4 linked regions of the Homo sapiens genome follow. The protein of the gene in region 1 interacts with the protein of each later gene in a biochemical or structural test. Each region holds a gene or a part of one and is shown on either strand. Other genes may lie near its edges.

The links.
Region 2: the proteins of TEC (region 1) and FASLG interact in a test that uses a peptide from one of them, tested with the Homo sapiens proteins (one study listed by BioGRID and IntAct).
Region 3: the proteins of TEC (region 1) and KIT form a complex in vitro, tested with the Homo sapiens proteins (2 studies listed by BioGRID and IntAct, with this or other methods).
Region 4: of the proteins of TEC (region 1) and ARHGEF12, one has a biochemical effect on the other in vitro, tested with the Homo sapiens proteins (one study listed by BioGRID).

Annotation. Positions count from the first base shown.
Region 1 is NC_000004.12:48,140,817-48,147,846, reverse strand, and holds part of TEC (tyrosine-protein kinase Tec), read left to right. Parts: intron 1-1,447; coding exon 1,448-1,522; intron 1,523-2,267; coding exon 2,268-2,439; intron 2,440-2,551; coding exon 2,552-2,768; intron 2,769-6,427; coding exon 6,428-6,492; intron 6,493-7,030.
Region 2 is NC_000001.11:172,662,094-172,667,397, forward strand, and holds the end of FASLG (tumor necrosis factor ligand superfamily member 6), read left to right. Parts: intron 1-2,240; coding exon 2,241-2,297; intron 2,298-3,528; coding exon 3,529-3,923; 3' UTR 3,924-4,783; downstream 4,784-5,304. UniProt on the Homo sapiens protein: Cytokine that binds to TNFRSF6/FAS, a receptor that transduces the apoptotic signal into cells. Involved in cytotoxic T-cell-mediated apoptosis, natural killer cell-mediated apoptosis and in T-cell development.
Region 3 is NC_000004.12:54,653,299-54,660,957, forward strand, and holds the start of KIT (mast/stem cell growth factor receptor Kit isoform 1 precursor), read left to right. Parts: upstream 1-4,658; 5' UTR 4,659-4,716; coding exon 4,717-4,783; intron 4,784-7,659. UniProt on the Homo sapiens protein: Tyrosine-protein kinase that acts as a cell-surface receptor for the cytokine KITLG/SCF and plays an essential role in the regulation of cell survival and proliferation, hematopoiesis, stem cell maintenance, gametogenesis, mast cell development, migration and function, and in melanogenesis.
Region 4 is NC_000011.10:120,472,392-120,479,421, forward strand, and holds part of ARHGEF12 (rho guanine nucleotide exchange factor 12), read left to right. Parts: intron 1-658; coding exon 659-736; intron 737-2,168; coding exon 2,169-2,244; intron 2,245-2,948; coding exon 2,949-3,116; intron 3,117-4,269; coding exon 4,270-4,357; intron 4,358-4,827; coding exon 4,828-4,914; intron 4,915-5,055; coding exon 5,056-5,135; intron 5,136-5,764; coding exon 5,765-5,998; intron 5,999-7,030. UniProt on the Homo sapiens protein: May play a role in the regulation of RhoA GTPase by guanine nucleotide-binding alpha-12 (GNA12) and alpha-13 (GNA13). Acts as guanine nucleotide exchange factor (GEF) for RhoA GTPase and may act as GTPase-activating protein (GAP) for GNA12 and GNA13.

The sequences.
Region 1 (7,030 bases):
CTTGACACATAGTAATTGCACAATAACTTCTACCTATTATTGAGTTACAACCCAGAGCCTAACACAATATTTGTGGAATGCTTAGGTTCTCAGGCCAGCATACAAGTCTACATTTAACTCTTAAATAAAATAACAGTTTCAAATTGAGTATAATAATGCTAAATGGTGAGACAGGATCAACCCCTCTATCTCCAAATATAGGGGGATTATCTTACCATCCACCTGTTGTATTAGAAAGTCATGCTTCATCTACTTATGGAAGCCAAGACATAGCCTAGATATGTACAAACTATAGATATAACGATGTTAAGGAAAAAAATTGCTGACAATATCACTAGGGATTCTAGACAATGTAAATTGCCATTAATGTTTATTGCTGTGATGGACTTCCTGAACACATTGTTAGAAATTGGTTTGTGGCCAGGTATACAAATAATTCATTGTATGGATTTTATTATTCATCAGTTGATGGACATTTGGGTTGTTTCCACATTTGTTCTCTTATGAATAATGCTTCTGTAAACAGTTGTGTACTAGTTTTTGCATGGAAATATGTTTTCATTTCTTTTGGGTATTTACCTAGTTATGGGTATGCTGCGTCATATGGTAACTCTGTGTTTAACATTTCAGGAACTGATTTCATATCAATTTATATCTCATTCTGTTGTTTTCTTTTTTGGTGTTTTTGCTCCCTAATTTTTTCTTCCGTGTTCCTGTATAAGTTTTATTTTTCACCGTCATCTCAATTCATTCAACAAACATATATCAAGTGCCTACTGCATGCCAGAAACAGAGCCAGGCTTTGGGGAGACTTCAATATTTCAGTGGTGGACTAGGTGTAGTCACTGATCCTGATTTTCCCAGACCCTACCACTTGTGGGGAGACAGAGAAGTACATAACGATTTTAAATTGCTTTGAGATATCTTGTAGTAGAGGAAATACAGAGTGCTATGGGTGTTTATGGAAGAGACATCTCCTGTTTCTTATTTAGTGCTGTATGCGACTTGGGTTAAAAGATCCACACTGATTTCCAGTAGTTGGTATTCCCAGTTGTTGCTATCCTAGAGCCCGATTTGTATGCTAAGATTGCTAATACTGAGTCATGTCAGGTGAATAACTTCCATTTTTAGCAGACTAATCTAATTCCCTTTCATAGTTCAGCTCTCATATTGGAAAAGAACACGAAATAACTGTTAGAAACCTTTTAACATCCTTTAAAATATTTGAAAAAAGAGAAAGCTGGCATGGTGCCTGTTAAACACTGTAGTATTTAAAAGAAAATGTTTGTTGAATGAATAAAAGCATATAGCAGAGTGCTGTATGTACACACAGAGGATGAGCAGTAAATGAATAAATGATGAATTTTCTAAGTGAGTTTCCTGTAGCATGTGACCAAGCAGAATGATTATGAATGAGTTTGACTGCAACGCTTTCTTTGATTATTAGGACTTGTCACCAGGCTTCGGTACCCAGTTAGTGTGAAAGGGAAGAATGCACCCACCACTGCAGGATTCAGCTATGGTAACTCTTATTTTGTGGTTGCATGAGCTAATTTTCCTTGAAAAGAATCCATTGTCATAAGATAAATTTGGATGTGTACTATTTCACATACTGGAACTGTTTTTTATAAGTTTATAGTATAGGTTTTTAGATAATTATACTTAAGACCATAGCAGCCTAGGTATTCAATTTTCATCATTATTCATAATTCCATAGAAAACTTTCTGTCAGTGAAAAATAAGCATTATCATGTTAACATCTAAAATAAATCAAAGCCCTTCCTGGTTCTCACTAGCTTTATTGGCTACAAGAACGTGAGTAAGGATGGAGGTAAGAAAGCAAGCTTCCAACTTAATTGTCTTTGTTGCTTCTGGCAAAAGCCTTTAAAACAGCAAATTAGATTATTTCCAACTTGATGGAATTGAAAAAGAACAACAACAAAAAAAAAACCTGAGAAGGAAGAGTGGTAAAGAAGGAAGTATTTGTTTGACAAAAGTACCTTTAACTTTCAGGCTATATTATTATTAGCTTGTTATGCAGAATTGTCTTGCCTTCTTCATTTCACGTTGGTTAGAAGGGATTCATCCTTCCCACCTTTGGCAGTTCAGATGCAGGTTTCAAGTCTGTTCTGTGTTTTACCAGGAATTATTACAGTGTTATCCTGTAATTTTGAGGTTGATCTTGGTTGTAGGTTCTTTTTCCCCCTCTCTGATTCATGCTACATTTTCCTTTTTAAATATGAACACTTTCACTTTCTGTCCTGCAGAGAAATGGGAGATTAACCCTTCAGAACTGACCTTTATGAGGGAATTGGGAAGTGGACTGTTTGGAGTGGTGAGGCTTGGCAAATGGCGAGCCCAGTACAAAGTCGCAATCAAAGCTATTCGGGAAGGTGCAATGTGCGAGGAGGACTTTATAGAAGAAGCTAAAGTGATGATGTAAGTTGCTATCATCTTTCTGGCTCATCTTTTTGTATTAAGAAGTGGCCCCTTACCAAAAACTTGGTAGTTTCTTTTCCTATAGTAACTATATATATGTCTTCCTTCCCAGGAAACTGACACACCCGAAGTTAGTGCAGCTTTATGGTGTGTGCACCCAGCAGAAACCAATATACATTGTTACTGAGTTCATGGAAAGGGGCTGCCTTCTGAATTTCCTCCGACAGAGACAAGGTCATTTCAGTAGAGACGTACTGCTGAGCATGTGTCAGGATGTGTGTGAAGGGATGGAGTATCTGGAGAGAAACAGCTTCATCCACAGAGATCTGGTAACCCTAGCCACCCATATTCCCACTCATTGGCTGAATTCCTTTGTAACACTGGCTCAGCAAATGTGCAATGATGTATTAATAGCCAATTTTTGTTCTTAACAATCTTTCACCATTATTTTTAAAGTTGGTAAATTTAACTTGCCCTGTAATTTTAAACGAAAGATCTTTATTCAATCTAATGATTTACTTAGTTAATATCTCCAAGCAAGTTTCCATGTTTTAATTTTTCGATCTCCATAAGAATCCCATGAGATAGCTACTCACAGTGGATTCTCTTACCATCATTCTTGTACAGATGAGAAAATTAGCTTCAGGGAAGTCAAAAGGCTCGCCTACTGTGATAAATAGGGAAATTGGGGTTGGCCTTGACTTTCTAACTAGAGCCCAAGTTCTTTTCCACCTCACACACTATAAAAAGAAACTATAAGAGAAATCCTTTGGATTTTTAAAAAATCTCTCAAATCACTGGGAAAACATGGAGGTTCATGTTAACTTCTCAAAATGCTAGAAAAAGAAATCCGTTACCAGTTCTAAATTATGATGGAGACAATTTTTCCCTTCTCACCTGTTCTCACTCTCTCCTCCATTCTTCTTTTCCTTCTGTTTTTCTTCTCTACCTGTTCTTTACAGATGCTTTCAGCTATCAGTAGCACTCTGTCCCCTGAAAATAATCAGCTGAAAATGTCTGTTTTCAGCATATCGGTAGCACTGTCTGTCCCCTGAAAATAATTCTTTTACCAAGAAGAGTGTAATTTTCATTTGGGACTTTCTCCCATATTTTAGTTTTAGCTTTCTAGTGATAAAGCATGGACACATTTCTTTTAGAAAGCAGAAAAACTTTAAAAAAATTTTTTTTTCCTTTGAGACAGGTCTCACTTTGTCTTCCAGGCTGGAGTGCAGTGGCGCAATCTTGGCTCACTGCAGCCTCAACCTCCCGGGTTCAAGCGATCCTCCTGCCTCAGCCCCCAAGTAGCTGAGACTATAGGCACGTGCCACCATGCCTGGCTAATTTTTGTAGAGATGGGGTTTCACCGTGTTGCTCAGACTGGTCTCGAACTCTTGAGCTTAAGCAATCTGCCTGCCTCAGCCTCCCAAGTGCTAGGATTACAGGTGTGAGCCACTGCACCTGGCCTTAGCAAAACATTTTTTAAAGTTAACAGTCACCTTAGACAGACATTGTTCTGATAAGTATTTTACAAATAAACTTGTTTAATCATAATTCTGGGAAGTAGATTTTCTTATTATTCCCTTTTTACAGATGAGGAAACTGAGGTGCAAATAGGATAAAATAACTTCCAATGGGCAAGTAAATTGTAGAGCCAGGATTTGAACCCAGGAAGTTTGGCTCTAAAGTCCCTACTTAACTACTATGCTATGCTCTCTAGAATTAAAACATATTAGAGAATTGAAGATTTGGAGATGGAACACTTTATTTCCTAGGTGTGTTTTGGGATACTTACCTTATCTTATATTCAGTTTCTGTGTCTGTAAATTGTGGGTTATAATGTTGTTTGGCTTCCAGGACTGTTTTAAAGGTCACATTATTTGACTGGGGCAATGGGCTTTGTAAAATAGACATGCTGTAGATAACATCAGTTATTGTTATCATTGTGTCAGGGATGATGAAGAACATCTCGTCAGTTAAAACTTGTGAACTAAGAACTAAGAACAAAATAGATGTCCTTATAAAACTGATAAAAACTGAGTATCTACGTGGGTGTGGCAGATTACACCTGTCCACACAGATGATGTTTTGGCAAAAACGATTCTTACATTTCTGTGCCTGTGATATTGGTATTACTATGGTAGGTTTGTGTCACCCCTTATGGGAAACTTTGGATGCTCTTGTCTCCTTGGTAAAGAATCCTGTTGACCATCCAGTGCAGGCATTGTGGAGTTGTGAAGTGTTTTCATAGGAAGATGCAGGCAGTCCAGGGAATGGATATTAACTCTCACTTTATAAGACTCTTAAAATGCACTCAGCAAGAAGGAACCTCATATGAGTGGAATTGCCACATAGAGAAAATAGAATTATGAACAGTCAGGAAGAAAAACATATCTTGGTCTATGGGTTATGGTATTAAAAATATTATCGGCCAGGTGTGGTGGCTCACGCCTGTAATGCCAGCACTTTTGGAGGCCGAGGCGGGCGGATCACGAAGTCAAGAGATCGAGACCATCCTGGCAAACATGGTGAAACCCTGTCTCTACTAAAAATACAAAAAAAATTAGCCAGGCGTGGTGGCAGACGCCTGTAGTCCCAGCTACTCGGGAGGCTGAGGCAGAAGAATCACTTGAACCCAGGAGGTGGAGGTTGCAGTGAGCCAAGGTCGCACCACTGGACTCCAGCCTGGTGACAGAGCGAGACTCAGTTTCAAAAATAAAAAATTAAAAAATTAAAAAAAAATTCTTGTCTTCCTTTTGAGAAATACCACGTCTTTCTATCAAACTATTTTCTTAAACCTTGTAACCTTGAAGAACATGCAAGAAAATATAAATTAAATAATCCACAATTGTATTTGACCAATTTTGTACATCATGTTATAATATACTGGGAACATAAATGAAAAAGCAAACTGTATTTACACATAGCTGTTCTTTTTGAGACGGAGTCTTGCTCTGTCACCCAGGCTGGAGTGCAGTGGCGCGATCTCTGCTCACTGCAACCTCCACCTCATGGGTTCAAGCAATTCTCCTGCCTCCAGTCCTAGGTAGCTGGTACTACAGTTGTGTGCCACCACACTTGGCTAATTTTTTTTGTATTTTTAGTAGAGAAGGGGTTTTGTCATGTTGGCCAGGCTGGTCCCGAACTCCTGACCTCAAGTTATCCACCCGCCTTAGCCTCCCAAAATGTTGGGATTGCAGGCGTGAGCCACTGCACCCAGCCTGTTCTTTGACTGGGATGAGATGACCAATCACTGAGCAGAAATATTGGATAAGAGATTGGTCGCCCATCATTTTGATGGTTGTGTGTTATTAAGCTCACCTAGTGAGAACCGGATTAAGGACTTCAAGAGATGTTCTCATTGTCAGTAAGAAAATTGGATAGTTTAATAAGAACAGGTCTGGGAAGGAGAAAAGTGAGTTGACCCTTCTATTAGCCCTTGTTTAAGAATGACAGTTGGCCGGTGAGGTTGCTCGTGACTATAATCCTAACAATGGGGGAGGCCGAGGCAGATGGATGAGGTCAGGAGTTCAAGACCAGCCTGGCCAACAAATACAATAATTAGCTGGCTGTGGTGGTGGGTGCCTGTAATCCCAGCTACTCTGGAGGCTGGGGCAGAAGAATCACTTGAAACTGGAAGGTGGAGGTTGCAGTGAGCCAAGATTGTGCCACTGCACTTCCAGCCTGGGCGACAGAGGCAGACTCTGTCTCAAAAAAAAAAAAAAGAAAGAAAAGAAAAAAAAAAGACAATTGGTAAAGATTATGTAATAATGCCTTATTGCAAATACAACTTTCTGACCTGCCTATTCATTTTTTTCAAATACACAATGGAAATACTTCCATAGGGGTAAAAACAACTTATTAAAGGGTGTTTCCACTCTCTGCAAATGTTGACTAGGTTACACTAAATTTAATATAAATAGAACTTACATTTTCCTACTTAAATGATAGAATTTTTAAACTAATATACCATCATAATGTTGTTTTCCAGGCTGCCAGAAATTGTCTAGTAAGTGAGGCGGGAGTTGTAAAAGTATCTGATTTTGGAATGGCCAGGTATGTCCAAGTATACGTGGTTTTAGGTGATGTTTGCATTTTTTTGGTGGAATTAATAAGTGTGGGAATAATTTGCACTGATGAAGCAGAAAGGAAATCTTGTTAACTGGTTCTCAGATTAAATTAAGTATATATTGTGATGGTAGTAATTCTCTCCACTAGGTGGTAGTATAGCCTGTTAAATACACTGTATTTCCTGGTGTGGATTAGATTTCTAGAATCTTTTGTTTTCACAAAAACATATTTGGTGGTGAGGTTCTTAGTATGTCCATGTCTGCAGTGTTTTTCTTCTCTTAATTTTTATAATTTAATAGTATTATAAAATACCTTTTAAAGGTATTTAGTTTATTTTTTCTCTCTTCTCCCTCCGTCTATCCATTCATTCATCCATACATCCACCCATAAAAAATCAGGTGCCTGCTCTGTGCCAGGCATAATGATAAGCTGAACCATATAGAGAATAAGACCTACAAGTCCTTGCCCGCATGCAGCTTACATTGAGGAAGAGGGTGAATCAGAAGACCTGATAAAGTTACAT
Region 2 (5,304 bases), on another chromosome or scaffold:
ATAAGCAGCAACTAAAAGTGATGTATCAGAAGGACATTTAATGCTTTGGGGATTGTGCACTCTGTATTGTTAGATAAAAAGACAAGTTACAAAAGGGTATGTTTAGTTTCATACTGACTATGTAACCATGTATGCACATTTTTATATTCTTAGGAACTGGAAAGTTTTACACACTGACATACTAACAGTGATTTTCTCTGGGAGATACTATTATAGATTATTTATACTTTCTAATTTGCTCCTTTTTACATTTTCCATTTTTTTCCGGTTAACTAATTAAATCTTTTATTCATTCACATGTGTGAGGCTAGATGTTGGGTGTTGGATGCTGATTGAGGATGAGCCAGCCCAGGGGGCCTGTCCTTATGGAGCTTTTAGCAGGGGGAAGAAGCTAAACAAAAGCAAGCAAACAGACCATGCAATTCCAAAGTTGTACTAAGTACAACCTGAGAATCTTCTTTAAGGAGGTGTTGTTTACGCTAACACCTTGGGGGTCAGAAGCCCGATGAGTGAACGGCTGTGTGCATGTGCTGTGGAGTGGGGTGGGGCTGGGGGCGGGCATTTCAGCGCTGGGAACGGCACATGCAAAAACCCTGGGGCAGGAAGCACTCATAACCAGTGTCTAGGATATCCTTGCAATTTATTTATTCCAGTATAGGTACAGCAGATATTCTTAGTGAGCATGTTCTGTAAGAATAACGTTGTACTAGGCTCTGTGAGGGATATAAAGACATGCAACATGTGGTTCTCTGTTCCGTTTCCTGCCGGTGCGTGGCTGAGTGCCAGATTAGTTGCTCGGGTGGTTTGCGGTGTAGGAATGCAGAGGAGACTCAGTTTTGCCTTTCCTGTTCGCTAACACCTCCTACATGGTGGGTTGTCTTGGATGACTAGAGAGGTCATGATTGCTCAGCTAATGTTCTCTGTGGATTGGGCCATTCTCATACCATATGTGAGTTTTACAGGCTAATCACGAACCTGACATAGACAAGCATCTCCTGTGAATATTTATTGAAGTCTCAGTTAGCTGAATTCATTAGCTAAGTGGCAGCTGTCTATCTTGTCTGAAACAGTTGAAGTCAGAGAAATAGTGTCTGTTTTGAGAACTATTGTCTATCCTTCCATTTAATTTGTCCAACATTTGCTAGTAACATGCCCTGTGTTAGAAACTGGGCTTCTCTGGTGAACTCAACGTATCGTAAGGAACTTGTCGTTATTTGAGGGGAATAAGATAATTTATGTAGTTACCCCAGAGACAAGAGGAGTCAGAAATGACAAGAGAGGGGAAGACAGAGGGATCCTAGATTTCAAAAGAGGGGCAGATCATATTTGATCAAAAAAGGCTTGAGAGGGTTTCCCAAAGAAAGCGGTAATAGGTAGTCCTTATGGGATGTTTAGGAATTTGACACAGAAATCTGCTTGAAAGAACATTACGGGCAGAAGACATGGCATGAACAAAGGCACAGAGGAAGGAAAGTGGGGGTATGTGTAGGCCACAGAACTCCCGTTGTGTGGCAATGCTCAGTGGGAGTAAGGAGATAAGGCTGGACAGATGGGCTGGGATTGTGTGATGGGGATACTTGTATACGACGGCATCTTCGGGGAGGAGCAATTAAAGGTGTTTGAGGACTCAGTGATATGAGGTGATTGTCAGAGGTCTTAAGATAATTAATTTGGGGCAGATTGTAAAATGTCACTGGGGGAAGATCTGGTGACACGCAGACAGATCAGTAGTCTTCTTCAGCCTCTGTCCTGTAAGTCTTTGGAACAAGAGAATCAGAGTGGACAGAGCCCTGGAATTGGCGTCAGGAGAGCAGGGTGTGGTCCCATCTGTGATGCTGACTAGCTGGGTCTTCTTGGATTAGTCACCCAACTTCTAAGCTCATTTTGCAATCGATAAGGTGGGACAATAATACCTACCTCAAAGGGTTGTGGTGAGTTCTAAATGCAATAACTGACATGACAGCTCTTTATGAATAAATGTTTATATTAATTATGTTTTATTGTAACATTATAATTTATACATATGTCAATCTTAATTTGGTTTATTTTTTTACCTCTTTGTTTCTGAAATATAGACTACTATGAATCCTGCAGTTCAGACCTACATGATTAGTATATGTTAGACTGTTGCCATTTACGGTTTTAAAATCTTTTTTTTAAAATGATTGGATTTAAATTCCCACCAAAATAATAGTTGCTATTTCATTTTAACATATATTTTTCCTCTCTCTATGATACAGGCCACCCCAGTCCACCCCCTGAAAAAAAGGAGCTGAGGAAAGTGGCCCATTTAACAGGTCTGTATCTGGAAGGTACAGGTGAGATTTGGGAAAGCTTTTGGCAAAAGGCAAAATGGCTGCCTGGTTTCCATTACCAGGCTCTAGAGAGTTGTTACTTCCTGGAGACAGTATTTGAACCCAATAATACTAACACTTTTCTTGTCGAGTCAGTCTTATGAACACACTTTGATCCCCTATTCTCTGGGCAAGGCCCTCTTCTAAATTGGAGACCTGGAGCTGATTATGACATGACCCCTGCCCATAAGAAGCTCATTCTTTTCAGTCATTCCAAAGTCCCTTGGGGGATTGGGGGCACAGATCCAAGAGGTGAGAGATGAGAAGGTGAGGAATGAGGACTTATTTTAGTCAGTGCTTTCTTGGTTTTCTGGAAGAGCTTCACTCTGCTTTGTCCAAGAGTATAAATAGGAGTGAGAAGGGAGACTCAATCCTGGCACTTGTAGAGTTTCAATATGTGCCTGTAAAGTGGAGTGAAATGATATGGTATGGGCACTCCCATTATAAACTACATAAATAATGGAATAAATATCACAGAAAGTGGTAGGCTATTGTCCCTGGAATTATTTAGGCAGAAATTATAGAATGATCCGGTCACATCAGCAGACACTTACTGAATACCTGCTGTGTGCCAATTTGGGGATGTGAAGATGAGTAGCACATGGCTCTTGCCCCCAGGGAGCTTGACATCTAATAGGGAAAGACAGGCACTTATGATAATTTCAGTACTTCAGAGATTTAGGTTATGTTCATGATGTTGTGGGGATACAAAGAAAAGGGAACTGTACCCCAAATTGAGGGGCTGAATAATTCTTACTGCAGGTGAGAAGATGGACCAGATGGTCCCTAAGATCCTTCCCAACTTTAGAACTTTAGAGTTCCTTGGATTTGGCTTTTTCCTTCAGGAAAGGACTTCAAAGCCTAGCAGATTTGGTGCTAGTTCTGAAGATAGTAAAATCTTTGTTCCAGAGAGCAAATATTTTCTCAATAATTTCTTACTGCAATGGATTACGGGTATATACTATTGTTCCAATTGTGTGGATGACAAAATAGGACAACGTTGTTGAGGAAATTCTGTGATGGATCAAGTTCTGACCCCTCAGCCAGTTCTATACCAGCTGTCATTCTGGGTGAAACATTTGTTGAAGGAAGGGCCCACAGTTTTGCCTTAGAAACTTAGTTTGTTGGATGCATGACTATTCCTTGTTGAAAGCTCCTTTTGGATTTATTTCAGGCAAGTCCAACTCAAGGTCCATGCCTCTGGAATGGGAAGACACCTATGGAATTGTCCTGCTTTCTGGAGTGAAGTATAAGAAGGGTGGCCTTGTGATCAATGAAACTGGGCTGTACTTTGTATATTCCAAAGTATACTTCCGGGGTCAATCTTGCAACAACCTGCCCCTGAGCCACAAGGTCTACATGAGGAACTCTAAGTATCCCCAGGATCTGGTGATGATGGAGGGGAAGATGATGAGCTACTGCACTACTGGGCAGATGTGGGCCCGCAGCAGCTACCTGGGGGCAGTGTTCAATCTTACCAGTGCTGATCATTTATATGTCAACGTATCTGAGCTCTCTCTGGTCAATTTTGAGGAATCTCAGACGTTTTTCGGCTTATATAAGCTCTAAGAGAAGCACTTTGGGATTCTTTCCATTATGATTCTTTGTTACAGGCACCGAGAATGTTGTATTCAGTGAGGGTCTTCTTACATGCATTTGAGGTCAAGTAAGAAGACATGAACCAAGTGGACCTTGAGACCACAGGGTTCAAAATGTCTGTAGCTCCTCAACTCACCTAATGTTTATGAGCCAGACAAATGGAGGAATATGACGGAAGAACATAGAACTCTGGGCTGCCATGTGAAGAGGGAGAAGCATGAAAAAGCAGCTACCAGGTGTTCTACACTCATCTTAGTGCCTGAGAGTATTTAGGCAGATTGAAAAGGACACCTTTTAACTCACCTCTCAAGGTGGGCCTTGCTACCTCAAGGGGGACTGTCTTTCAGATACATGGTTGTGACCTGAGGATTTAAGGGATGGAAAAGGAAGACTAGAGGCTTGCATAATAAGCTAAAGAGGCTGAAAGAGGCCAATGCCCCACTGGCAGCATCTTCACTTCTAAATGCATATCCTGAGCCATCGGTGAAACTAACAGATAAGCAAGAGAGATGTTTTGGGGACTCATTTCATTCCTAACACAGCATGTGTATTTCCAGTGCAATTGTAGGGGTGTGTGTGTGTGTGTGTGTGTGTGTGTGTGTATGACTAAAGAGAGAATGTAGATATTGTGAAGTACATATTAGGAAAATATGGGTTGCATTTGGTCAAGATTTTGAATGCTTCCTGACAATCAACTCTAATAGTGCTTAAAAATCATTGATTGTCAGCTACTAATGATGTTTTCCTATAATATAATAAATATTTATGTAGATGTGCATTTTTGTGAAATGAAAACATGTAATAAAAAGTATATGTTAGGATACAAATAATTTTTAGAATTTACTAATATTTGAATTTTTTGCTTATTATTTCTTTCCTCCTTGATTTCTTCATTCATTATGATATCAGACCACTTTTAAGAATAATTTACTGGAGTGAGAAGAACTATGAATCAAATCTTTCTGCCTTTGCTAGGCCTTCCTTCTCTCTATATATTCTCTTTCCTCTTCACCTCCCAGAGTTTCCATTACCAATATTATGACCAATGTTAAGCTTAGCCAACTTTCCATAGATTTGATGAGAAATTATATTTTCCTGAAGGCAGAACCATGGCACAGTGGAAAGGGCACATATTTTGGACTAAAAAACTTAGATTTGAATCTTTGTTCTTCCACGTACTGCCTATGTAAGCACTGGTTAGGTCACTTGACCTTCCTTGAACAAAAAAAGAGCTGAAAGTATCAGACACATAGAACATCAAAAAATAGTGTCTGCCACTACTAAGCCACTCTATTAGAGCCACTTCATTCTCCAGAGGCCACTGATCTGTGGGATCCATCTAAGCACCTGG
Region 3 (7,659 bases), 6.5 Mb from region 1:
CATCTCGAAACAAACAGGCTCAACTCCAAATCCTTCACTGTCCACTAACAAGTACCTCCATGTCTTGCTGGATGGGAGCACATGTAGCTCCACAATACTTTTGGTCACACAGGCCTATTGAATCTTAACTTCCTTATTCATCCCCTCTCACTATTCTCACCTCTGTGGACTTAATTCAGTTCCCTGTTTCTCCTGTGGATCACTGCATTAGGCTCCTTACCATTTTCTTCCTGCCTTAACTTTTGCCCCCTTTCAAGTCACCCTTCACTGAGTTTCTTCACTATCTTTCCAAAAATGTAAATCTTAGCACAACAGGCTGCAGCTTAAAGTCCTTTAGTGACTCCCCGTAGCTCAGAGGATGAGGTTCTCATTTCGGAGTATTTACAGTTCTTGTCTATCTCTGTGGCCTCGACTCTCCCCACTCTCCTCCAAGCCCCATTTCCTTGACTGGGCAGCACTCCTTGTTCTTCCTATTCCTTATGCTGTTTCCTGCCTCTAGCCCCGTGCGTTTGTACTTCCCACTGCTGGAACATTCTTCTCTCCTTTCCCTTTCCCCGCTCCTGATCCTTCAGAGTCTAATACCCACCTCTCTGGGAGGCCACATGAGCTCACTGGACAGGTGCTCCTCTGTGTGCAAACATCACTGTGCATGGCTCTGTTAGAGTACTTCATGCCATGTAATTTTTGCCCCTTTATTCATCTCTCCCCTCATTTGCTGGAAATCCTGTGAGGGCAGCATCTGTGTCTTGTCTAACTTGGTATCCCTGACACCTAATACACTACATCTGACACAGAGATGTTCAATTAATACTGAATGAAAGCTGGAACGAAGACCATACATTATCTCCTTTCAGACTCACAAACTGTGAAGTGGTTATTGTTAGTATAGAATCTAACCGGGGGATTGTATTAATCTATTCATTTCTTCAACTTTATGGACAAAAGACTTTCAGATGATTGCTGAAAACCAAGAAAAGCTATTAAAAAGCAAACTTGAAAAGGATTATACTCTTGTTGTAGTAATTCCACCCCTGGTTAGGAATGCATACTTAATAACTAATCAGAAGCAGGCAAGTTTTATTCACCAAGACATTAATCATCAAGTAATTTATGATAGTAAAAAAATTGGAAAAAAAAGAGAGAAATGATTAAACACCCAGAATTATGGTACATCCATAAAATTGAACATTATACTGCCATTAAACAGTGTGTTTCCAAAGGATTTTTAGTGATCTGTAATAATGCTCATGTTATTTGTGAAAAAGCTGGATAGAAAACTGAAAATATACCAAGATCTTAAATTATGTAAAGGGAAAAAAACCTCACACATAAATAGAGAAAAAAGAAAGGAACATATTAAAACAAACTCTTCAGTGATTGTATCTTGAGTGCCTTTTTTGTTTTTTATAATTTTTGGTATTTTCCAAATTTTCTACAATAAGCATCTTTTACAGTCAGAAATATAATAAAATATTTTCAAGTTCGAGATTTTAGCTGTGTTAGTTGTATTTGTGTGGCATTATTACTCTTTCTTCTGTTGATGGTGCATCAGTTTTTCTTTGGGGATGCACCCTTCCCCATCTCAGGCCTCTGGTGTGAAGTGGATCCCTGACCCCGGCTTCAGGGGTGGGCACATGACTCAGACATGGCCAATCAGCATACTCCATCCCTCTGGCTCCTTCCCAATGGGCACATGACTTAAGCCAGGTCAGTGAGACTCGGTTTCTCCCATAAACTTTTACAGGAGATGTTTATGGGGGCAGGAAAACTCTACTTCCGTTGGTACTAGTGAGCTGTAAGCCTAGAGCTGCCCTGAGTGTATACAAGGTTGGCAAAACAACACAGGAAAGTATTGAGGATAAAGGTGGAGGAAAGTGTACGTGCACTTGTGCACACATGCATCCACACACACTCGCCCTTCAAGTCCTGATAACTTTGAGTCCTTGGATCTAGGAAAGTCTGAAACACTATTGTCCCTGGACTTTCTGGTTATAAGAGCCAATACATTTAGGCTTCTTTGTTTGCTTGCTTAATTTAAGCTGCTTCTATAAGTTGCAATCGAGAGTCCTTGCTAAAAGAATTATGAAAACAATGAAATACATAAAGCACAATCCCTGAACATGCCCAGGACTATCACAAAATACAGTATAGAATTAATCCATACATCCTACCTGAGATATAAAACATTTCCATCATTGCCAATGTTCCATTGGACACTGCTGATCTATAATATAGTTCCTTATATATTACAGCATATATGTCCACTCATAGTGCCTTATATATATGCTTCCTTTCTTTATGTAACAGGCAGTGGGTATTATTAAAAACAGCTAACAACCCTAAAGGTACAAGTACTGGAGGCTCTCTGTTGTGGCCAGCATTAAAATTTTAATTCCTGGATCTAAGGAGATTTAGCGTGTCTCAAGGTTGGGCTGGGAGATATTTTAGGGTATGGTTTTTTTTGTAATCAGTACAGAAGGATTTCAATATTGTGTCAACCAATAAGGCCAAATTGGTGTGTACTGGCTGAACATAAGCTCTGTTAGCAGATATTATAGTTTCTTACTTGAGTACCTATTTTCCCTGCTGGACTGTGAATTCCCCTAGACAGAGACTTTGTCTTACTCATTTATGTGGGTCTTATGCCTACCTAGGTGCTCAAAAGATATTTGCTGAATGAAAAACAGGAATGACGGTCCAACATGGTATAACTCCCTATTCAGTTTTTTTTTTTCCTGATAGAAGTTCCGTGCCTAGAATTAAATTGCAATATGGTCTCTTTTCACCCACTCTTTTGAAGATGTTATCCTCTCCAATATCAGCTGATTGAAGAAGAAAATTGTAAATTTTCTCTCTCAGGCATAATGTTGATATTTTAACTCATAGTGATTTTTTCTCAATACAAAATGAATTTTAGAAATAAATCAAGATCCCAGAAACTTATGATTGCTTTGAGTGGTATCTTTTATCTGTCATCCTAAGAAAAACATGAGATCTGATGGCCCAGAGCACAGAGACCTTTGGTATTTCAGTTCTCCTACAGCCGCATGACTCGAACCTTTTGCTGGGAGATTGGGATGTAGGTCCCCATACTTGATTATAAGGACTGTGAGGGCAGGGGCCACATCTGCATATCTGTCTATTAATAATAGTACTCCTGGTACCTAGCTCCTCCTTGCTTCACAGCAGACACTAAACAAATGCTTGCTGAGTGAGTAAATACTTACATTTAAAGAGAGGCAATTATACACATTGATCATTTGATCACCCTCTAGCACTGATAATTTTTAAGTGATTAGCTTTAAAAATCATTTTTCTTACATCAACCTGGGTCCTCACACTATTAAACAACAGGAGAGCTTTCAATATTAAATGAAGTGGGGCAGCTGGGCAACTGTAAATTTTGGATGATACTTCAGAGAAGAGTCTAGGTGTATCTGTTCTATCCCTTTTTCTGATGGGCATCTGCCATTTATTTTTCCATTCTTAAGCTCTCAGGAGGGATGTCTTATTAGTTTATCAGAATGCATAGGGAAAGCTCATCTTTCTTGGAGTAGGTCTTCCAATAAGTGTTCAAGCCCTGGGTCTTCCCTCACTACAATAATAAACATACCTGCTCTACCCTCCTCACAAAGCTGTTATCGTGAGCATGAAAAGACGAGTCGCTGTGGGGAAGAACTATTAACCCCTATACAGATACTGTTGTTGCTTTCCGTTCAAGGATCCACCATGAGACTGTGGGTAAGGCACTTTCTGGGCAGTGAAATCGGGCTTAAGAGAATCATTGTACTTTTATTTTGCTCCTGGGACCGGCAAGGGCAGTTAAGAGCCCTAGCCCTAAAACTGTCGTCTGTTACAGAGGCAGAGAAATCATTACTGGGGTTGGCAGCGTTGGGGGGAGGGGGGAAAACGTGTATGAAAACCTGGGCTCCCAGAGCAAACTTCGCCACGCGCCCTCCATCGCCCCTGTCTCCACACAAGTCCCGGCAGGGGCTTCTTGGGCGGAGGCCACGCCGACCAATAGGAACCCACTGTGTTCCTACAGGTTACGAAGCAGGTGGAGAAATTGAGCAGAAACAATTAGCGAAACCGGGCTCAGCCTTTACCGCGGTGCCAGGAGCTCCTAACAGGCCTGGAGGGGAATGTCGGGGCTCAATTTCCTAACGCTCCCCTCCCCATCCCCATGCCACCTCCACGAGCAGCGGCGTCCAGCCTCCTCCCGCCCGAACGTGCTCGAGGGGCGGGCAGTCGACCTTTATTGTCTGGGGAGCACCTGGCAGGTGGCGGGCCCGTGCCCTAACGTGTGCGTGGTGCCCAGCTTCACAAAGCGAGCGGGCAGCACCTCCTTGGTCCGGGAACGGCCTCAGCCTGGCCGTCCACATCCCAGGGGTGGAAAGGTGGAGAGAGAAAGGGGCTCCGGAGTCAAGAGCGGGGAGAGAGGGCGCGCGCGCCCTCCTCCTCCCGGCGGGCACGGCCCCCCGGCATTAACACGTCGAAAGAGCAGGGGCCAGACGCCGCCGGGAAGAAGCGAGACCCGGGCGGGCGCGAGGGAGGGGAGGCGAGGAGGGGCGTGGCCGGCGCGCAGAGGGAGGGCGCTGGGAGGAGGGGCTGCTGCTCGCCGCTCGCGGCTCTGGGGGCTCGGCTTTGCCGCGCTCGCTGCACTTGGGCGAGAGCTGGAACGTGGACCAGAGCTCGGATCCCATCGCAGCTACCGCGATGAGAGGCGCTCGCGGCGCCTGGGATTTTCTCTGCGTTCTGCTCCTACTGCTTCGCGTCCAGACAGGTGGGACACCGCGGCTGGCACCCCGACCGTGCGACTACTCGGCGAAGCCTGTGCCTGGGAGGGTGGTACCCGCCAGGGTGCATCCGGAGAGAGGACTGCGGGCCCTCAGTGCCCGTGCGTTCCAGCCTCCGGGGAGACTCCAGGTGGCCCTCGGACTCTCCGGCGCCCTGCCTCGCTCACCTGCGCGAGGAGACCCCAGCTGCTGGTGGTGGGGGACGCGAATCCGGGGTTCTTCGGGAATGGGGACAGCAAGAGGGGGTTAGGCGTGAGCGAGGCTGCAGGCTCCGTGCGAGTTTGGGGTGGCTTTTGTGCCGACGTTGCGCGGGGGGCGGAGGCGGGGGGCTCAGGGGTTTGCACCGAGCGCCTTCTCTTGCCGTGCGAGGCGCGGCCGCAGCTTCCTTTTGTTAAAAGTTGCGTGTGTGTGACCGGCGCCCGGGAGGACCTGCCTGCAGGTTCTCCGCCGCGCTGAGGGCAAAGTTAGAGAGCCCTTTCTCTGCTCTGCGGCTACTGCCTTCCAACCGCAGGCGCTCTTTGTGCCCAGAGCTGGGGACCGACCCGCTGCCGCCTCTGCTCGCGGCGCCACCCGTGGAGACCAATCGAAGGCTGCGGCGTTTCCCCGCCTCCGGGTTAGGCTTTTGCGCTGGGAGTGCGCGGCGTGGGGCTGTTGTGGGGCCGGACTCCCGCGAGCCTGGAGGTGGTGGCGACAGGGACAACTTGGGCAGGGCGTGTGGAAAGCAGCCGCTAGGTTGCAGACTTTTTGCTTTCGTACATCCCGTGCTCGCCCCTTTCTGCCGCGGCGCCGTTTCATTCCTGCCGCGCGCCCCGGGGCGGCTGGAGGCTGTGTTTGCCGCCTGCTCCGGGAAGGCAAGGGACAGCGTGCTGGGACTCTGCGTTCCCTGACTCCAACCGCCTAGCACGCCGGCCAGAGTGCCCGGCCTGCCTGGCGGGTTCTGAAAGCCCCTAGTTCCCGGTGTCTGCGACCTGTATTCGCAGGTCCTGTTTTCTTCGGAAATTTTTGAGATTCGTGACCGCCCGCCTCCCCGCCCCCGGGACTTCTATACTTCAGGGCTGCCTGGGGGTGGGGTGGGAGATGGCGTGGAACTTTCTGCAAATCCTACTCAGTTCTTAAAGCTATAACAGAAATCCAGGTATATCCGCGCGGGAACTGGGTCTTAGGTGAAGGATTTGCAGGTTGCTGGAGCCCCTTGGTCAGATTCCTGCCTCCCGTTCCCTTTTTTCCAGGTGTCGCTGGTGCGGGCGAGTGCAGGTCGCCCAGCTCACCCCTGAAGCCCTGCTATCTCCCAGGTCATTTTTTAAAACAAACCTTTAAGGTTACCCTGATGATGTAAGGATAGAAAGTGAGTCTTAGCTGGAATCAAGCGCTTGAAAGGAAGCGGCGCAATGAACGGTTTTGAGACTGTCGACTACCGGTCAGTTTCTCTATAAAGTCTCCAGGCGCAGTCTGCAGCGTCCTGGACTTGTAACTATTGTGAGGGCTTTCCTGTGGGGGGCAGAGAGGCCTTGCATCTGGACCCCTGTGCAGCAGGAGGGGTCAGCAGGGGTCACGAGGGAGTGTTCGGATTCTCTGGAGGATTTGATCACCTAGCTTAAAACAACACATCTGGTCTTTATGTTTTTGTGCCTTGACCTTTTTAATATCAGTTAAGCTATGTGAACTAGAACCTAGTAGGAGACTAGAAAGACCACATCGAATATCTCCCTTTTAAAAAATTAAAAGAATCAATGGTTTTCTTCTCCCCAATAGATTTTTGGCAAAGGGAATTTTAAGGTCTGTCTCCTGGGGGGGCAGTGTGGTGTAACGACAAAGCCTTGCTCTGTCCCCTGGGTTCTCGGTTTCTCTGCCATTTCTTGGCTGCGTGCCCTTGGCCAGGTTGCTTAGGGCAGGTTGCTTAAATTCTGGGAAACGCAGTGTCCTCCAGAGTACAAGGAGGCATCTGCATCATGAAGGATCCTTTGGGTCCAGAATTCTCCTCCAATGTTCTGAGTGTAGACTCAGCACTCTTTTTAACTATTCCCCTGGCCCCTGTCTGCCTCTTTGAAATTCCTCTGCCTCTCCTGCTCACAGGGAAGTCATAGAGTATGGGTGCATCTGACCGGTCTGCCCCTGACTGAAGCAAGGAGCTGTGGCTTATGCTTACTGCCCTTCAATTCCCATATATTCCTCTGCATTGCCCTTTGAGGGCCCCCGCCCCCCAAGTATTACAGCTCCTGTGCCTAACAGGATGAACCTGCTAGGAATAGTGAATCATACCTTCCCCGTTTCGTTCCTGCAGGTGTGAGGCTGGAGTCATTCTCAGCAGCTGGACACAAGGCACTCTAAATTATTATCCTGCTGGAAATAAGAGACCCCAGATAATTCATTTATCCCTATTCTGTTTTTTCCCCCACTCATTCCCATTTTTTTTCTCATGACTCTGTAAATCATGTAATGCTATGCATTTATAGCATGCTTTCTAATGGGCCTTAAGTTTCGTATGACATGTGTGGTGTACATAGTTGTTGCTCTTCAGTTGGAAACTGTGTGCCAGGCCTTTTGCTTGGGGCTTTACCTATTTCTAGTAGTCTCAATGAGCCTAGGAAGTAGTACTATTATTACCCCTAACATTTTACAGCTGGAGAAACTGGCTAAGGATAAGCCCTAAATCATCAGTGGTGAAGCCTGATGAGATTGGCTGCATGTGCCCAGCTCTATAGCCATTCACATGATTCACCAGAATCTGTTGTAAGACTCATTCAAAAATATTTAATGAGTTTTTACTATGTGCCAGGGATTGTTGGAAGTTCTGGGAATACAGGATGGCCAATGTCACTACCTTCCCAATTTTGGTGAAAAATATTTAGAATTGCGTGTCTTA
Region 4 (7,030 bases), on another chromosome or scaffold:
AGGGGGGTGGGGCAATAGGACAAGGTTAGAGGGAGACTTTTTATTTTTTGCCTTATATAGCCATCTGAATTTTGTACTGTGTGCATGATTTACATATTCAGAAAATAAATATAAGCTAATAAGAGACCAATGACTTTGAAAAGAAGATTGAGAAAGAAAAGCCAAAGAGGCAGGAGGAAAACTAGGAGAGTATATTATCACCAAAGCCACGGGAAGAGAGTGAGTTTTCAGTCCTGTCTAGCATTGCAAAGAGCTCAGTAAAATGGAGATTTTTTTTTTTTGAGATGGAGTCTTGCTGTGTCGCCCAGGCTGGAGTGCAGTGGCGTGATCTCGGCTCACTGCAAGCTCCGCCTCCCAGGTTTGCACCATTCCCCTGCCTCAGCCTCCCAAGTAGCTGGGACCACAGGCGCCCGCCACCATGCCCGGCTAATTTTTTTTTATTTTTAGTAGAGACGGGGTTTCACTGTGTTAGCCAGGATGGTCTTGATCTCCTAACCTCGTGATCCACCTGCCTCAGCCTCCCAAAGTGCTGAGATTACAGGTGTGAGCCACCACGCCTGGCCAAAATGGAGATTTTAAATGCCAAGTTTGATTCAGAAATAGAGAGGTCATTAATGACCAAAGCACTAACCTTGGTTCCACCCTGCCTAATTTTCAGCGCCTAGAAGATTATCAGCGTCGCCTTGATACCTCCAGCCTGAAGTTGTCAGAGTACCCAAATGTTGAAGAGCTCAGGGTGAGAGATGGTCTAATCATAATTTAAAAAATAAAATAAAATTTGCTAAAGACCTGGCAGGTAATTAACATCTCAGTGGGAATATACGTCACCTGAAGGAGTTCTTGTATCGTAGATTATCTGTATTTATGATTTTTTTTGCTGCCTTTTAAATGCTTGATCTGTATGAAATTAGTTTTTCATTAGAGGAATATCTTGCATAAAACTGTAATATTACATGACAGCAATTGGCAGGAGACTAAGGGACACTAATTATTATAAAATTTAATTTTATTGTGTTCTGTAGTTTGTTTCAGACAGGGTCTTGCTCTGTTGCCCAGGCTGGAATGCAGTGGTGCAGTCTTGGCTCACTGAAGCCTTGGCCTCCTGGACTCAGGCAGTCCACCCACCTCAGCCTCCCTAGCAGCTAGGACTATAGGTATATGCCACCATACCCAGCTAATTCTGTGTTTTGTAAAGACAAGGTCTCGCTGTGTTGTCAGGTTGGTCCAGATTTCCTGGGCTCAAGTGCTCCTTTCTCAGCCTCCCACAGTGCAGGGATTACAGGCATGAGCCACTATGCCCAGCCTGTGTTCTGTAGTTTAAATAAGGGTAGGACTGTTTGGTAACTTTCCAGATCATTTAATAACACAAGATAGCATACTATTTTCTCATGAGGCTCTTCAGAAGCATAAAAGTTGGAACCATTACAGGAACGATAGTAAAATGTTTACTAATTGCCACTTCTAGTATGTGGGCTTATGTGTTAACTTTTTCGGATTTTAAGTGTTTTTGTACCATTTCACTAGGTGGTGGTTTTGGCAGATTTATTTGGTGGCTGTTAAAATAGACTTTTATGTCATATATTAATACTTCGTCAACAAGCACGTAAATGTGCTTATTCCCCTTAGCTTCCAAAGAATGAGAGTTTTCTAGAGCTGCTAATACTAAAAGATGATTCTCTTACTAATAAGTTGTTAATATTTAGACCAAGTCTGAGTAGTACCTGGACTTTTCATGAGTACTATTTCTTAGAACTTTCTTTGAAATTAGAGCCTTGGAACTCAGAAGCCACTTTCTTATAGACAAGCATATGTACCATGCTCATCCAGTTATTCATAGGAAAATTAAAGGATACGTTGAGAATCTAGTGACTGAATGTTTGTAACTTGATCTTCATAATCTGTTATCATCTGTTTAGAGTGAGGTTTGAAGATAGTACTCCTGAATGTTCTTCTGCAAGATACCTTTTCCTTTTTAGAAAATTGTATGCAGATTACTTTAATATGGCTTTTGTGCCATTTTCAAGAACTGACAAATAGCAATAATGATAGTTGAATGTAAATGGTGTATTTTATATTAAGAATTTCTTTAAAAGAGACTGTATTATATAGATAATCATGTTACTGAGTGCTTGGAAATTATTTGTGCATGATTTTCTTTATTTTGCCAGAATTTGGATTTAACAAAAAGGAAGATGATTCATGAAGGGCCATTGGTTTGGAAGGTGAATAGAGATAAAACTATTGGTAGGTCTGATATTGTCTTTTAGTTTTGGGGAGAGTGGCAAAAGGGAAGGAATAGGAAAGTTTCCTATGACAAAGGGAAGAGGAGAGAACCATTCTCTCAGCAGTTTGCAGTGCTACCTCGTGTTATTTGTACATTTGTAGATCTGCTTGTGTTATTTCATTATATGTAAGATGTGTTAAATATTCATTTAGGAATGTAGTGGAGAACTGATTTAGTCCTATTTCCATCATTCTTATAGTCTAGTGAGTCTTTGTATGCTTTGTAAGCTTTCTTTAGACCAGTACATCTTAAACTGTCTGTGATGAGGAACCGTTTTTGTTTTTTCAGAAACAAGGTCTTTCTATGTTGCCCAGGCTGGAGCACAGTGGCTAGTCACAGATGCAGTCATGGTGCACTGCTGCCTCGAACTCCTGGGCTTAAGGGATCCTCCTGCCTTAGCCTCCCTAGTAGCCGGGACTATAGGCGCACAGCACCACACCCAGCTTGTTGTTTTTTATTTCCTATTGGTCACAGACTGACACTTCAGTGAAATAAAATAAAAATGAATTACTGAAAATGAAATTTTAAAAGATAATATACAAGTCAATTTTTAAAATTTTGTAGCTTTAACAGAAATAGAATTCCTCTGTTGAATCATTATAAAGTTAATCAAACGCGTCTCCATTTCTGTACTTACCATTTTTTTCTGCACTTTTATTTCTAGATTTATACACGTTGCTGCTGGAAGACATTCTTGTATTGTTACAAAAGCAGGATGATAGACTGGTTTTAAGGTGTCATAGTAAGATTCTGGCATCTACAGCTGATAGCAAACACACGTTTAGCCCTGTCATTAAGTTGAGTACAGTGTTGGTTCGACAAGTGGCAACAGGCAAGTATGTCCACTGAAGGATACTAATTTCCAGATTCATTGTGAAGTTGCATAAGATACTCGGTGCTGTCTCAATAACACAAGTGGCATAGAGTCTTGCTATTTTTATATTCTTAAGCAAATTACATGAAATTTACTGCTTAGAAAGAGACCTAAGAGTTTATACCCCAAAGTTATTAGGGTGTCTCGATTCTGTGAACAGTTTTCTGCATTTGAAAATTTTTATGCTATTACTTTGGTTCTTTATGTTCAAATCATTGATAGATCCCAATGAAAAGCCTTTCATTTAGGGTGGTATGTTTTTTGATTTGGTGAGAAAAAAATCAAAAACCAAAGAGACGGATGTAGTGTTGATTAAAAATCAAATTTGACTGGCAAGTTATATTTTAACTCTATTAACAACGGGGTCCCTTTTAAAACTTGTTAGTTTCATGGTGGCAAAATAAATTTGTGACCTCTTTTCTCCACTACTCACTGAATATTATTAACTAACAACTTAGCAAAAGTGCAGTTCAAAATAAATGCAAAAGAGTAATAGCATTTAATCTGGTAATTTGGATTTATTTATTTTTTTTCTTTTGAGACGAGGGTCCCACCCTGTCACCCAGGCTGGAGTGCAGTGGTACAACCTTGGCACACTGCAACCTCCACATCCCAGGCTCAAGCAATTCTTCAACCTCAGCCTCCTGAGTAGCTGGGACTACAGGCATGCACCACCATGACCTGGCTAATTTTTTTGTTTTATGTAGAGGCAGGGTTTCGCCATGCTGCCCAGGCTGGTCTCGAACTCCTGAGCTCCAAGCGGTCCACCTGCCTCGGCCTCCTAAAGTACTGGGATTACAGGTGTGAGCCACCGTGCCCGGCCAGTAATTTGGATTTTTGACATGCTTTTAGCAAAGTTTCTAGTAAATTATTGTGGAATTAGTGCTAATTCGTATAATCTTTGTTTTATTGAAGTACAATAAATATAGTACAATAAATACGTTAATATGGTAAGTTGCACAAATTTTAAGTGTACATCTTGATGAATTTTAAAGTAAATATATGTAACCTTTATCTAGTTTAAGGGGCAGACTATTTCAAGACCCTAAAAACATCCCTCATGGCCTCCCCAGGTCATAGTATTAGAGTAATCTTGTATTGTTTTTTCCAGATAACAAAGCTTTATTCGTCATTTCCATGTCAGACAATGGCGCTCAGATTTATGAACTGGTGGCACAGACAGTTTCTGAAAAGACTGTGTATGTATCAGATATGGCTACCTTGCTATAGCTAATATTTTCATTATCCCAAGCGTAATATTCCATAAACTTAACTTTGTTTTTATAATGTATGGAAACCAAGCACTTCCTCTGTACTCTTTTAGAGACGTTCTACTATGAACTTGTTCTTTTTTAGGTTGATGCCTTTTATTTTGATTCTATTCTGAAAGTTTATTTCCTAAAGAAAAAATTGTGCAAAATGTCAAGTGAAGTTTTTTTAATGTGTCCATAGATTTCTCTTAAGGTATAGTTTTGGACTCTCGCCTTAATAGTGTGTTGCCAAAATAAAGATATTCTCTGGCAGAGTGGGTTTTGTTGTTGTTGTTGTTGTTGTTGTTGTTGTTGTTGTTGGTTGATTTGGTTTTTGTTTAGTTTTGCTTTCTGAGTATATTTAAAGGATATTTCTTTTTTCTTTTTTGTATTTTGGATTTCTTTCCAACTTTCTGAAGCTGGCAGGACCTAATCTGTCGGATGGCTGCATCAGTGAAGGAGCAATCCACAAAGCCAATTCCATTACCACAGTCAACACCTGGCGAGTGAGTGTTCCTTTGCATTGTAGTAGGACTTATTTTATGTTTTGGGTTGGAAAAGACTAGGATAATTATTATGTTTTGTTGCGATGATGTTTAGATACCTCAGGAAGGTAAAAGTTTTTTTTTTTTTTTTTTTCTCTACAGAGGAGATAATGATGAAGAAGATCCTTCAAAATTAAAAGAGGAGCAGCATGGCATTTCAGTCACTGGTTTGCAGAGTCCAGGTACACTCTTCTGAAGAGTTCAATGGAGAATGTGCTCTATTATCTGTTAAAATGCTGGCCGGATGTGGTGGCTCATGCCTGTAATCCCAGTGCTTTGGGAGGTCGAGATAGGCGTATCACCTGAGGCCAGGAGTTAGAGGCCAACCTGACCAACATGACAAAACCCTGTCTCTACTAAAAAATACAAAAATTAGCCGGGCATGGTGGTAGGTGCCTGTAATCCCAGCTACTTGGGAGGCTGAGGCAGGGAGAATTGCTTGAACCCAGGAGGCGGAGGTTACGGTGAGCCGAGATCGTGCCATTGCACTCCAGCCTGGGCAACAAGACCGAAACACCAAAAAAAAAAAAGAAAAAAAGAAAAAAAAGAAAATAAAATAAAATGCAAAGAAACTTTAATACTGTTTGGTTTATGCAGGTTCCAGCATCAGAGATTCAGTTTAACAAACTTTGCCTTTGAGCCTTCTGTGTGTCAGTATAACACTGTTCTAAGTGATGTGTATTTTTCTTAACAGATGATCTCTGTAGTTTATGGATTGTTTTTTTTTTTTCTGATTCTTCCCTGAATGCTTCATGTTAAAAGTTAAAAGCTTTGTTTAGATATAGTCTACCTTTTCTATTCCATTGGACAGACAGAGATTTGGGATTAGAATCTACCTTAATATCGTCAAAACCTCAGTCTCATTCACTGAGTACCTCTGGGAAATCAGAGGTACGTGATCTGTTTGTGGCTGAGAGACAGTTTGCAAAGGAACAACATACAGATGGGACACTAAAGGAAGTTGGAGAAGATTATCAAATCGCAATCCCAGATTCACACCTGCCTGTCTCAGAAGAACGGTGGGCATTGGATGCACTAAGAAATTGTAAGTTTTATTCATAACTTATTACAGATACTTACTAAGTATGACACTCATGTGCCATCCCTAAAGTATGTGGATTTATCAAACTCCACTTATTCTTCTAGTTCTATTGTGGAGATTATAGTATTCTCTACAGTGGCCCATGCCACAGGCACACACACACATGCCACTCTGTTAGCTCCCCACCCCCCTGCCTGGTTCAGAATCACTGTTAAAATGGGAGGATAGCATATCTCTCAGTTGTATTGAGGTGGGAAAAAGGCTGAGAACAATTTCTTTGGCTGGGGAGAACCACTTGAAATTTTTAAACCAGCGTATGACTAAAGGTATGAAAAAAGATTAATCTGGCTGAAAGCGGTGGAAGGATTTGAATGGAAAGAGGTATGGAATGGTGTACTTACTAAATAAGCTATTATAATAGTCTGGCCTGAGACTAAAAGAGTTTGGACTAGAATGTTATCAGAAGGAATAAGAAGAAACTGAGAAGTCATCAAATGCTTAAAATAATTGACTTCTTTGAATGTGAGGTCAAAGGAAAGGGAATATTTAGAGATAATTTCATTAATCTAGTCAGAAATAAGAGTCAGAAAAGGACTACCACTGCTTCCCCCACCTCCTTCCATTGTACTTTCTTTTTTCTTTCTTTTGATTTGGTAGAATTATAGGCTCAGTTTTAAAGCATGTCAAGATTAAGATAATGAATGACAAAACACTAAAAAGTGAGTAACTAGCAGGAAGTTAGAGTTTTAGGAGTGAAACTTTAGAGAGAGGTTAGGAAGAGATAGAGATGTGAGCATCAGAGCCATGAGACTTCCTGGCATCTCTCAGGAAGTGATTGTAGAGCAGAAGGACAGAGGATGAGAGACCTAAGTGGAACCTGTTGCCTAAAGAAACATGACAGACATTAAGCTAGTGATGAGAGCAGAGAATTGGTTATTTAAAACCTACAATATTTTTTATACCTTCTCCTGAATTAACAGTCTTAATAATTTCTGATGGTTGGAATAACATTGTCCCAATAACTCTATCATTGTC